Regions from separate parts of the Homo sapiens genome. Here region 1 is linked to region 2. The links come from fine-mapping of genetic effects on gene expression. A gene starts in region 2. The other region holds a variant in brackets. All regions are shown on one strand. Distances are from middle to middle. Region 1 overlaps ADGRL1 (adhesion G protein-coupled receptor L1). Region 2 holds the start of ASF1B (anti-silencing function 1B histone chaperone).

What was found. PIP is the estimated chance that this variant, and not a neighbour inherited with it, causes the effect.
Region 1: its variant is fine-mapped to the expression of ASF1B in whole blood (INTERVAL, PIP 0.91).

Annotation. Positions count from the first base shown.
Region 1 is chr19:14,188,383-14,193,749 of GRCh38, reverse strand. The region is part of intron 1 of ADGRL1 (adhesion G protein-coupled receptor L1); the gene reads left to right. Among named protein-coding and RNA genes, the nearest start is that of ADGRL1, 15 kb to the left of the region's middle. The variant G/A (reference allele first, on the strand shown) is at 3,359.
Region 2 is chr19:14,134,325-14,139,691 of GRCh38, reverse strand. ASF1B (anti-silencing function 1B histone chaperone) reads left to right here and starts at 3,103. Exons shown (of 4, transcript NM_018154.3): 1 at 3,103-3,344. The coding sequence starts at 3,236. It overlaps ADGRL1-AS1 (ADGRL1 antisense RNA 1), which reads right to left and starts at 2,540. Exons shown (of 3, transcript NR_045214.1): 1 at 2,469-2,540. RefSeq lists enhancers at 2,458-2,617, 2,114-2,740, 2,818-2,957 and a silencer at 3,288-3,337.

The DNA.
Region 1 (5,367 bases), 54 kb before region 2:
TGTCCAGGTTTCTCCTTTGTATAAGGGCGTCAGTTGTTGGATTAGGACCCACACTAATGACCTCATTTTAACTTGATTATCTCTGTAAGGACTCCAGATGTTCCCAACACAGTCACATTTGAGTTATCAGGAGTTGGGACTTCAACATATCTTTTGTATTTTTGACATGGGGTCCCACTCTCTTGCCCAGGCTAGAATGCAATGGTGCAATCAGAGCTCACTGCAGCCTCAACCTCCTGGGCTCAAGCAACCCTCCCCCTTCAGCCTTCCCAGTAGCTGGGACTATAGGCACGTGCCACCGTGCTCGGCTAATTTTTGTGTTTTTTGTGGAGATGGGGTCTCACTATGTTGCTCAGGCTGGTCTCAAACTCCAGGGCTCAAGTGATCCTCCCACCTTGGCCTCCCAAAGTACTGGGGTTGTAGGTGTGAGCCACTGTGCACTGTGCCCAGCCTGAGTTTTTTTTTTTTTTTTTTTTTTGGCGGTGGGGGCGGGGGGCCATATTTCAATCCTCCCCCTCCAGAGGCCTCAGGGATGGTCAGGCCTGGGTCTCCCGGGGGACACCCACCACCTGCCAAGCTGAGGCTGGTTCCTGGGGGTGTCTGGAGCTTCCTAGGGGAGCCACTCTGGGGAGAGGGCGTCGTGCTCCTGGGGAACTCTGTCTGTACCCCTAAGGCAATGGCACCCTGCCTGTGGGGGTCAGGCGTGGTCCCCCAGGTCACAGGGCAGACGCCCCATCTCCAGCTATCCTCACTGCCGTCCTTAGTCACTCCCCTGTCTTCAGTAAGTTTTTGCTTGGGGACCCACTGTGTGTTCAGGGAACCAGGAGACAGGAGTCGGGGAAACCAAGTTCCAGCCTCAGGAGTTTCCATTCTTCTGGGAGTAGAAAGAAAATCTAGAAGGCTGGGCACGGTGGCTCACGCCTGTAATCTCAGCACTTTGGGAGGCCGAGGCGCGTGGATCATCTGAGGTTGGGAGTTCGAGAGCAGCCTGACCAATATGGCGAAACCCCGTCTCTACTAAAAATACGAAAATTAGCCAGGTGTGGTGGCCTGTGACTGTAATCTCAGCTACTCAGGAGGCTGAGGCAGGAGAATCACTCGAGGTTCTTGAATCACTTGAGGCGGAGGTTGCAGTGAGCCAAGATCACGCCAATGCATTCCAGCCTGGGCGACAGAGCAAGACTCCGTCTCAAAACAAAACAAAGAAAAGGCCGGGAGCAGTGGCTCACGCCTGTAATCCCAACACTTTGGGAGACCAAGGCAGGTGGATCACCTGAGGTTGGGAGTTCAAGACCAGCCTGACCAACATGGCAAAACGTCATCTCTACTAAAAATACAAAAATTAGGCAGGCGTGGTGGCGTGTGACTGTAATCCTAGCTACTCAGGAGGCTGAGGCAGGAGAATTGCTTGAACCTGGGAGGTGGAGGTTGCAGTGAGCCGAGATCGCGCCACTGCACTCCAGCCTGAGCGACAGAGTGAAACTCCGTCTCAAAAAATAAATAAATAAATAAAATAAAATAAAGGAACTCTAGGAGTGGTCAAGTAAAAGTATGGAGCAGGGATGGGATGGATGAGGTTATGGACTAAATTGTATCTTCCCACCTCCCTCCCAAATGCAGAGGTTGAAGCCCTGACTCCCAGCGTGAGTGTATTTGGAGGTAGGCCCTTGAGGGAGGTAGTTAAGGTTAAATGAGATCTTAAGGGTGGGGCCCCCTACTCTCAGAGGACTGGTATCCCAATAAGAAGAGAGAGGCCGGCGCTTGTGGCTCATGCCTGTAATCCCAGCACTTTGGGAGGCCAAGGCAGGAAGATCGCTTGAGGCCAGGAGCTCAAGACCAGCCTGGGCGACATAGCGAGACCCCATCTCTACAAAAAAAATCGAAAAAGTAGCTGGGCACAGGAGCACGCACCTGTAGCCCCAGCTACTCAGGAGGCTGAGGCGGGAGGATCCCATGAGCCTGGGAGGTTGAGACTGCAATGAGCCGGGATTGTGCCACTGCACTCCAGCCTGAGCAAGAGAGCCAGACCTTGTCTCAGAAAAAAAAAAAAAAAGAGAGAGACAGCAGGGATCTGTCTCCCTTTATGCATGTCTAGAGAAGAGGCCCTGTGAGGATATAGTGAGAAGGCGGAAGAGAATTTCCACAGAAACTGAATTCGCTGGCACCTTGATCTTGGCCTTCTGGCCTCCAGAACTAGGAGGAAGTAAATTTCTGCTGTGTAAGCCGCGCAGTCTATGGCACTTTGTTATGGCAGCCCGAGCTAATAGAGAAGGTGACAATGGGGACAAGGGATGCTTCACCCTGTCTGTGTGCCAGGAGCATCCCGAGTGTCTCGTGTGTGAATTTGTCCTGTTGCACAGCTGCCCTCTGAGGTATCCCCGTTTTACCAAGAAGAAAACAGAGACACAAGAGGTCACAGCATGGCAAGGGATGCACAGGCAGGCGGTGACTGCAGGGCACTGTAATACAGGGTGGCAGAGGCCCATGTCTGCGTCTCTGGGGAGGACACCTCTGAGTCTGAGGGACACAGATGGGGACAGGCTGAGGCTGGAGGGTGGGAACCCGCATGGCTGGAGGGAGACAAGGCGGGAGTCAGAGGTGTTGGAGGGGTTAAAGCAGAAGACCCACCACTCAACATTGTCTTTTGTTTTTGTTTTTGTTTTGAGACGGAGTCTTGCTCTGTCGGCCAGGCTAGAGTCGGTGGCGTGATCTTGGCTCACCGCAACCTCTGCCTCCCAGGTTCAAGCAATTCTCCTACCTCAGCCTCCCGAGTAGCTGAGATTACAGGTCCCCGCCATCACACCTGGCTAATTTTTGTATTTTTAATAGAGATGGGGTTTCACCATGTTGGCCAGGCTGGTCTTGAACTCCTGACCTCAGGTGATCTGCCCTCCTCGGCCTCCCAAAGTGCTGGGATTACAGGCGTGAGCCACTGCGCCCGGCCAAGATTGTCTTTTAAAACACCCCTCTGGAATGGATGAACCTGGAGGACATTATGCTAAGTGAAATAAGCCAGACACAGAAAGACAAATAGTGCATGACCTCACTTATCTGTGGAATCTAAAAAAGAATTGAACTCGTAGAAGCAGAGTAGAGCAGTGGTTATGGTGGTGAGGGCACAGGGGAAGGCGGGGGATGTAGGTCAAAGGGTACAAGCTTTCAGCTTTCAGATAAACACGTTTTAACCAGGCAGAATGGCTTGTGCCTGTAATCCCAGCACTTTGGGAGGCCAAGGCGGGAGCATCGCTTGACGCCAGGAGTGCAAGGCCAGCCTGAACAACATAGCAAGACCCTGTCTCCACAAAAAAATTTAAAATCAGCCAAGCATGGTGGCACACACCTGTAATTCCAGCTACAC[G/A]GAAGGCTGAGGTGGGAGGATCTCTTGAGCCCAGGAGTTCGAGGCTACAGTGAGCTTTGATGGTGCCACTGCACTCCAGCCTGGGCAACAGAGCAAGACCTCATCTCTAAAAGAAAAAAGTTCCAGAGACCTAAGGTACAGCATGGTGACTATAATTAATAATAGCAGGCCAGGTGTGGCGGCTCATACCTATAATCGCAGCACTTTGGGAGGCCGAGGCAGGCAGATTGCTTGAGCTCAAGAGTTTGAGACCAGCCTGGGCAACATGAGACTCCATCTCTACTAAAAATACAAAAATTAACCAGGCACGGTGGTGCCCACCCGTAGCCCCGGCCACTTAGGAGGCTGAGGCACGAGAATTGCTTGAACTGGGAGGGAGAAGTTGCAGTGAGCCAAGATTGCGCCACTGCACTCCAGCATGGGTGACAGAGCGAGACTCCGTCTCAAAATAATAATAATTATTATAGCATACTGTTTTCTTGAAACTTGCTGAGGAATTAGACTCAAGTGTTCTCACCACACACACCAGAAAGGTGTCTAGGTGAGGTGTTGGATGTGTTGTTAGCTTGGTTGTGGTAATCACTTCACAACACATAATGGATATCAAAATATCATGTAACCTTAAATAGATGTAATTTCTATTTGTCAATGATGCCTCAGCAAAGCTAGGGAGAAAATAAAAAGGATCCTTCTGTGCAACAGCCCGCATGTCCATTACCGATGACTGGATAAAGAAAACGTGCTCCACCCATGCAGTGGAATACTACGCAGCCATAAAACGGAATGAAGCTCGGATCCAGGCTAGAACGTAGGTGAGCCTTGGAAACGTGGCGCTGAGTGAGAGAAGCTGGACACAAAATAAGGCCAGGAATGGTGGCTCACAGCCGTAATCCCAGCACTTTACGAGGCCAAGATGGGCAGATCACTTGAGTCCAGGAGTTTGAGGCCAGCCTAGGCAACATGACGAAATCCTGCCTCTACAAAAAATACAAAAGTTAGCCAGGAGTTCATTTAGAGGAGTCATGTGACTATAGTCCCAGCTACTCAGGAGGCTGAGATGGGAGAATCACTTGAGCCTGGGAGGTGGAGGTTACAGTGAGCCGAGATTGGGCCACGGCACTCCAGCCTGGGCAACAGAGTGAGACCCCCATCTAACTGGGAAAAAAAAAAAAAAAAAGGCCACATAGCCTGTGACTCCATTTGTATGAAATGTCTAGAATAGGTAAATCCATGGAGACAGAAAGTAGATTATAAGTTACCAGGGCTGGGCGACAAGGGGAGTGGGCATTATTGTTTAGTGGGTACGGAGTTTCTATGTGGGGTGATAAAAAAGTTTTGGAGGCTGGGCACGATGGCTCATGCCTGTAATCCCAACACGTTGGGAGGCCGAGGCGGGTGGATCACTTGAGGTCAGGAGTTCCAGACTAGCCTGGCCAACATGGTGAAACCCCGTGTCTGCTCGTGGTGGTGGGCGCCTATAATCCCAGCTACTCAGGAGGCTGAGGCAGGAGAATCACTTGAACCCGGGAGGTGGAAGTTGCAGTGAGCCAAGATTGTGCCACTGCACTCCAGCCCCGGTGACAAAGTGAGACTCCGTCTCAAAAAAAGAAAAAAAAGGAGGTGGTGCCTCTGGCTGCCAGGAGAGCCTGGACGTCGGAGGCAAAGGAGCCAGAGGGCACTTGGGGAGTGGCCAGGGCCCAGGACTAGAGGGGCAGATGCTGAAGACAGATGTGTGGACCAACACTGGGGTGTTCTGGAAGTATACACAGCCCAAAGACTTACTCTTGAACTGGATTTAGGGGTGAGAGAGGAGTCAAGGGTTTCAGCTCCTGGGGTTCTGGCTGGAGGGCCTGGGAGGATGGTGGCACCGTGCACTGATGTAGGGGCTTATTTTGGTCTGGTTGGGCTGAAGGTGCCTTGGAGTTCCCGGTGGAAGTATACATGGCTCTGGGGGGTCCACTCTGGAGTCTTAGCATTCTAGGGTGCAGCCTGGGAGGAAGAGAGGGACT
Region 2 (5,367 bases):
AAATTAGATTTTCTCAAATCACAAATATCCCTAAGTATGCAATGATTGCCAAGAAATCAAGCGAATCATAAATGTGAGTTTCCTTGAAGCCAAATAATTTCAAAAGAATAAAAACAAAGCTTTCGATTTTTTAACAGCTAAAAAGAATTTTTCTTAACTTAATGTGAGATGTAGATACCAAAAATGGGCTAGGCGCTGTAATCCCAGCACTTAAGGACAAGATAGGTGGACTGCTTGAGGCCAGGAGTTTCAAGACCAGCCTGGGCAACAGCGAGACCCTGTCTCTACAAAAAATTTAAAAAGTATAAGAGGCAGGGCACGGTGGCTCATGCCTGTAATCTCAGCACTTTGGGCGGCCGAGGTGAGTGGATCACCTGAGGTCAGGAGTTTGAGACCAGCCTGGCCAACATAGTGAAACCCCATCTTTACTAAAAATACAAAAATTAGCTGGGTAAGGTAGCGTGTGCCTGTAGTCCCAGCTACTCGGGAGGCTGAGGTGGGAGAATCGCTTGAAGCTGGAAGCAGGAGGTTGCAGTGAGCTGAGATTGCGCCACTGCATTCCAGCCTGAGTGACAGAGCAAGACTCCCTCTCAAAAAAAAAATAAAATAAAATAAAACAAATTAGGCATGGTGGCACGCACTGGTGATCCCAGCCACTCGGGAGGCTGAGGTGGGAGGATCACTTGAGCCCAAGAGTTCCAGGTTATAGTGAGCCACGATTATGCCACTTGCACTCCAGCCTGGGCAACAGACCTCTATTAAAAAAAAAAAATCCCACAGGAACTGGATTGTTTAAAAAGAAAAGGAAAAGGAAAACATACTAGCACAGTGAGTGAGTCCTAGTGAGCCCACAGAGGTGACTGGGTAAGAAATACTAGTGCCTTGGCTCAGTGCTGTTCAGGCGTACGGCCTGTGAGTTTGAACACTGTCCAGAGCACCCTTAGAAAGGCCTCTCTGGGGAGAGGACATTTGAACAGAGACTTGAATGACAAGAAGGCATAAGCCATGCCAAGAGCCTAGGAGAAGAGGTTCTGGGCAGAGGCTTTGCACTGGGAGTGGCTTGTCAGAATTTTAACAAAAAGAGGGTTACTTAGCCTGGTTTGAAGTTGGAGCTGGGTGGTTAACAGGAGACAAAGCATAGAGTTTCAAAGACAATGCTCTCATCCGGAGAAGTGACCTGGTCAAATGTGTTTCTGACCTTCGCTGTCCAGTAATACAGGAGCCACTTGTCACACGGGCTCAGGAGCACTCAACTGCGGCTATCAAGACAGCTAAACTGAACTTTCTTTTTTAAAATTTAATTTTAATTTTTAGAGACAGGGTCTCACTCTGACACTCAGGCTGGAGTGCAGTGGCTGGAGCATTCTGGGCTCAAGAGATCCTCCTGCCTCAGCTTCAGGAGTAGCAGACACTACAGGTATGCACTACCACACCTGGCTTATTCTTTTATTTTTTGTAGATATGAGGTCTTGTTATGTTGCCCAGGCTGATCTTGAACTCCTGGCCTCAAGAAATCCTCCATGACCAGCCTCTAAAATTACAAATAATAATAAAAAAAGATATGGCCGGGCACAGTGGCTCACGCCTGTAATCCCAGCACTCTGGAAGGCCGAGGCGGGCGGATCACTTGAGGTCAGGAGTTCGAGACCAGCCTGGCCAACATGGTGAAACCCCGTCTCTACTGAAAATACAGAAAAAAAATTAGCTGGTTGTGGTGGTGGGCACCTGTAATCCCAGCTACTCAGGAGGCTGAGGCAGGAGAATCGCTTGAACCCGGGAGGTAGAGGTTGCAGTGAGCCGAGATCGCGCCATTGCACTCCAGCCTGAGTGACAGCGCGAGATTCCATCTCAAAAAAAAAAAAGTGGCTTCCAAAAAATGTTAATTTTACACCTAATTTTGGTGCGCGGCTGGCATTATTTTTCCACTGGGCAGCACTGATCGCCCGTGGGGGCAGAGACTCTGAGACCTGGAGTCTCCCAGGCCGGGGGCGACGGCCCAGACGGGAGGCGGTGGAGAGAAGTTTCCGGATGTATTATGTGGTCATGAATCATGTCAGGGAATTGCCACGGCCCCCGTTGAATGGGGAGGCGCTGCCTCGGGCGCTGAGTAGCAGAGCCCGGACTCTGAACACTGGTCTGCCCCCGAACTGGAACTCCCATTTTCAGTACCGTCCGCTTGAAACCTCCCAAGAGCCCTCAAGGGGGCGAGAGAGGGATCCAAACCCCTCGGGGGCGAGAGCGGGATCCGAACCCCTCGGGGGCGAGAGCGGGATCCGAACCCCTCGGGGGCGAGAGCGGGATCCGAACCCCTCGGGGGCGAAAGCGGGATCCGAACCCGGCCGGATTCCCGAGGTCTGAGCGCGCCTCGTGACCGCCACTCCGAACGTTCGCAACGTTCACAACGGACTCCCGCGCCGCTGGACCTCAAGGGTCAGGAGCCACTCAGAAAAGCTCCAGGAAACGCTCACCTGTTGACAGACGCTGAGGCCGCAAACGCTCCTCCTCTCTCTTCACACTCGCCAACACCGCGGTGGCGCTCGACTTCCGCTTCTCTCCAGCGAATCCCCAGCTGAGCCTCCTTCTGCTCCCGCCACCATTACCAATCCAGCCAATAAACTCTCAGAAAACCCTCTTTATCTCCGCCCCACTCCCTCCTGCCAATCACTTCGGGTGCGAGCACCGCCCTTCCCGCCTTCTTTAGCGAGCGCCGCGCGCCACCGCTCGGCGGGTGGCGGCGCTGCGCGCTGCGGGATGCATCTCCCGGAAAAGCGAGGCGAGGGGCGGGCCACGCCGGTGCGGGAACCCTCAGGATTGGCCAGAAGGAGGCCGGCGCTGTGACTCCGTCCATTCCCGCCGTTGACATCCAAGTCGGAGACGCTGGGGATTGGTTTCCAGCGGACACGCTAAGAAGCTTGGAGATAGTTTCGCCCTCCTCACACGCTGCGGAGAGGGAGCTCCGCTGATTGGTCCGAGGAGTCTGGGCGCGCGCCGATCGGCGCTCCAGGACTGGCTGAGGGGGTGCGCGCGCCGCCAGGGAGCGTTGGCGGTGATTGGCCAGAGGGCGGAGGCCGGCTATTTGAAGGCGGCGCGCGGACTAGGTGCGCACTTCAGTTCTCGGAGAGAAGAGGCGGGAGTGGACCTGGTCAGCCCTACCCCACTGACCCCACCGGACCCAGGCGCGGCCTCCGCCACAGCCACAGCCCCTGCCCCTGCTGCGGCGCGGCGAGGCGAGGCGATGGCCAAGGTGTCGGTGCTGAACGTGGCGGTCCTGGAGAACCCGAGCCCTTTCCACAGCCCCTTCCGGTTCGAGATCAGCTTCGAGTGCAGTGAAGCCCTGGCGGACGGTGAGGCTGGGCCTGTGCGGGGACCCCCACCCCCGGGCCGACCCCGGCCTCCCCTCAGAGAACCGCTCCCATGGCCAACTTGATCTCCCCCATGAAACCCCTCGTCCCCCTTCCGCCAACCCCGATCTCCCCCAGCCCGCCAGTCAACCGGATCTCCCGGTGGAGACCCCCCGCCACCAGCCAACACGGACCTCCCCGTGACCTCCTCCCCCACTGCCCGCCTTGACCTCCCGGGTGGAGACCCCCCGCCAGCTAACTCGGACCTCCCAGTGGCCTCTTCCCCCACTGCCCGCCCCGACCTCCCCATAGAGATTAACCCCCTCCAAGCCCCATTTCCCGCGTGGGGAACCTCATCCATCTTTTTTCTCTGGAGCTCTTCCTAGGTACCCGTTTTCATGGGGAGACCTTCTCGGCCTCCATTTCTTAACCCACGGAGATCTTCAGCCACCGTGGTTTCCCTGTGGCAAGACCCCCGCTTCAACCACCCACCCATTTTTGCCCACTTATTCCCTCTTTCCTGTAGTGAGATACTCACACCTCCCATTTTCCCTCTGGAGACCCCCAATATCCAGCCCCTTCCCATTTTCCCCGGGGGAAATCCCAGCCATCTCCTATTTTCCCTATGGAGACCTCTCACCCAAGCTCCTCTCTCCTTGCCGTGAAGACCCTCCCCTCCAGTAACCTTTTTTTCCTGTGAAAACCCCTCAACCCCTTTTCAGGACCTCTCTCAACCCCATCTTCCCATTTGTGTCCCACCAGTCCCCTCCCCAACCTGCCAATATTTCAATAACCCCACGCCCACCAGTTGCTGCCGCTTTTCTGCCCCAATGCACATACCCTGGAACCTGGTTTCTCTCCTTCGTTGGGGCCCAACCCCCCTATGCTTGAGCTCTCCCTGGGAAAGGATGCTACCGTCTTTGAGGGGAACTTTGTCTCCCCAGCTCCCCTTCCCCACCTTTCTCTGTGGGCTTGGATAAACACACTGAGATCCGAGGGGTGGCATAGCCAGGCAGGCATTAGCTAGTTCTCCAGGTTTGCCCACCCGTTTCCAGCTGAGTTACTGCAGCAATTTTTCTGTCACTTTTTCTTTCTTCTTCTTCCTCTTCTTTTTTTTTTTTTTTTTTTTGAGACAGTCTCACTCTGTTGCCCAGGCTGGAGTGCAATGGCACGATCTCGGCTCACTGCAACCTCCACCTCCCGAGTTCAAGCGATTCTTCTGCCTCAGCCTCCCGAGTAGCTGGGACTACAGGCGCCTGTCACCACGCCCAGCTAATTTTAGTATTTTTAGTGGAGGCAGCGTTTCACCATGTTAGCCAGGTTGGTCTCGAACTCCTGACCTCAAGTGATCCACCCGCCTTGGCCTCCCAAAGTGCTGGGATTACAGGCGTGAGCCACCGTGCCCCGTCTTCTTCTTTTTTTTTTTTAATATAGCTGGATAATCAGTGCCAAGCTCCCGTTGCTTTTGATGGTCTGACCTAGTCTGGGGGGTGGGTGGATTGGGCTGAGCTGTGACGGGCTCCAGCTTCAAACAGTCGGCTGGAGCTTGGAGGTCACAGCCTCCTGTACATCTTTTCCAAGGTGCTTCCGTAGATGTACTTATTAATCTGTGTGACTTAAAGGTGGGCATGGCTCTCATCTCACAGATGAGAAGACAGGAGCCACAAAACGCAAAAGACCTTTCAAGTCAAGGCCTGTACAAATCCAAAATCTAAGGTCACCTAGGGAGCCTTGGCACCACTAACAGGCAAGTCCTGCTTTCAGGAAGAAGTACTCCATTAGGCCATTTTTCTACTTGGTGGTTGAAAGAGAAAAGGCAGCAGCCGAGGAGGTGGTGATCTGGGGGCCTGTGAAGCCAGGATATGCTAACTAGTGCCTCTCGGGGGCAGGTAGGTGTTTTGCCCTCAAAGCTGGTCGCCTGGACTAGCTTGGAGCTGATAGAGTGAGATGTGGATGTGCTTTGGGTAGGCCAGTGGGTCTGTCTCTCCCCGGTCTCTCTCGCTCCTTTTTAAATTAAGGAGTCTAC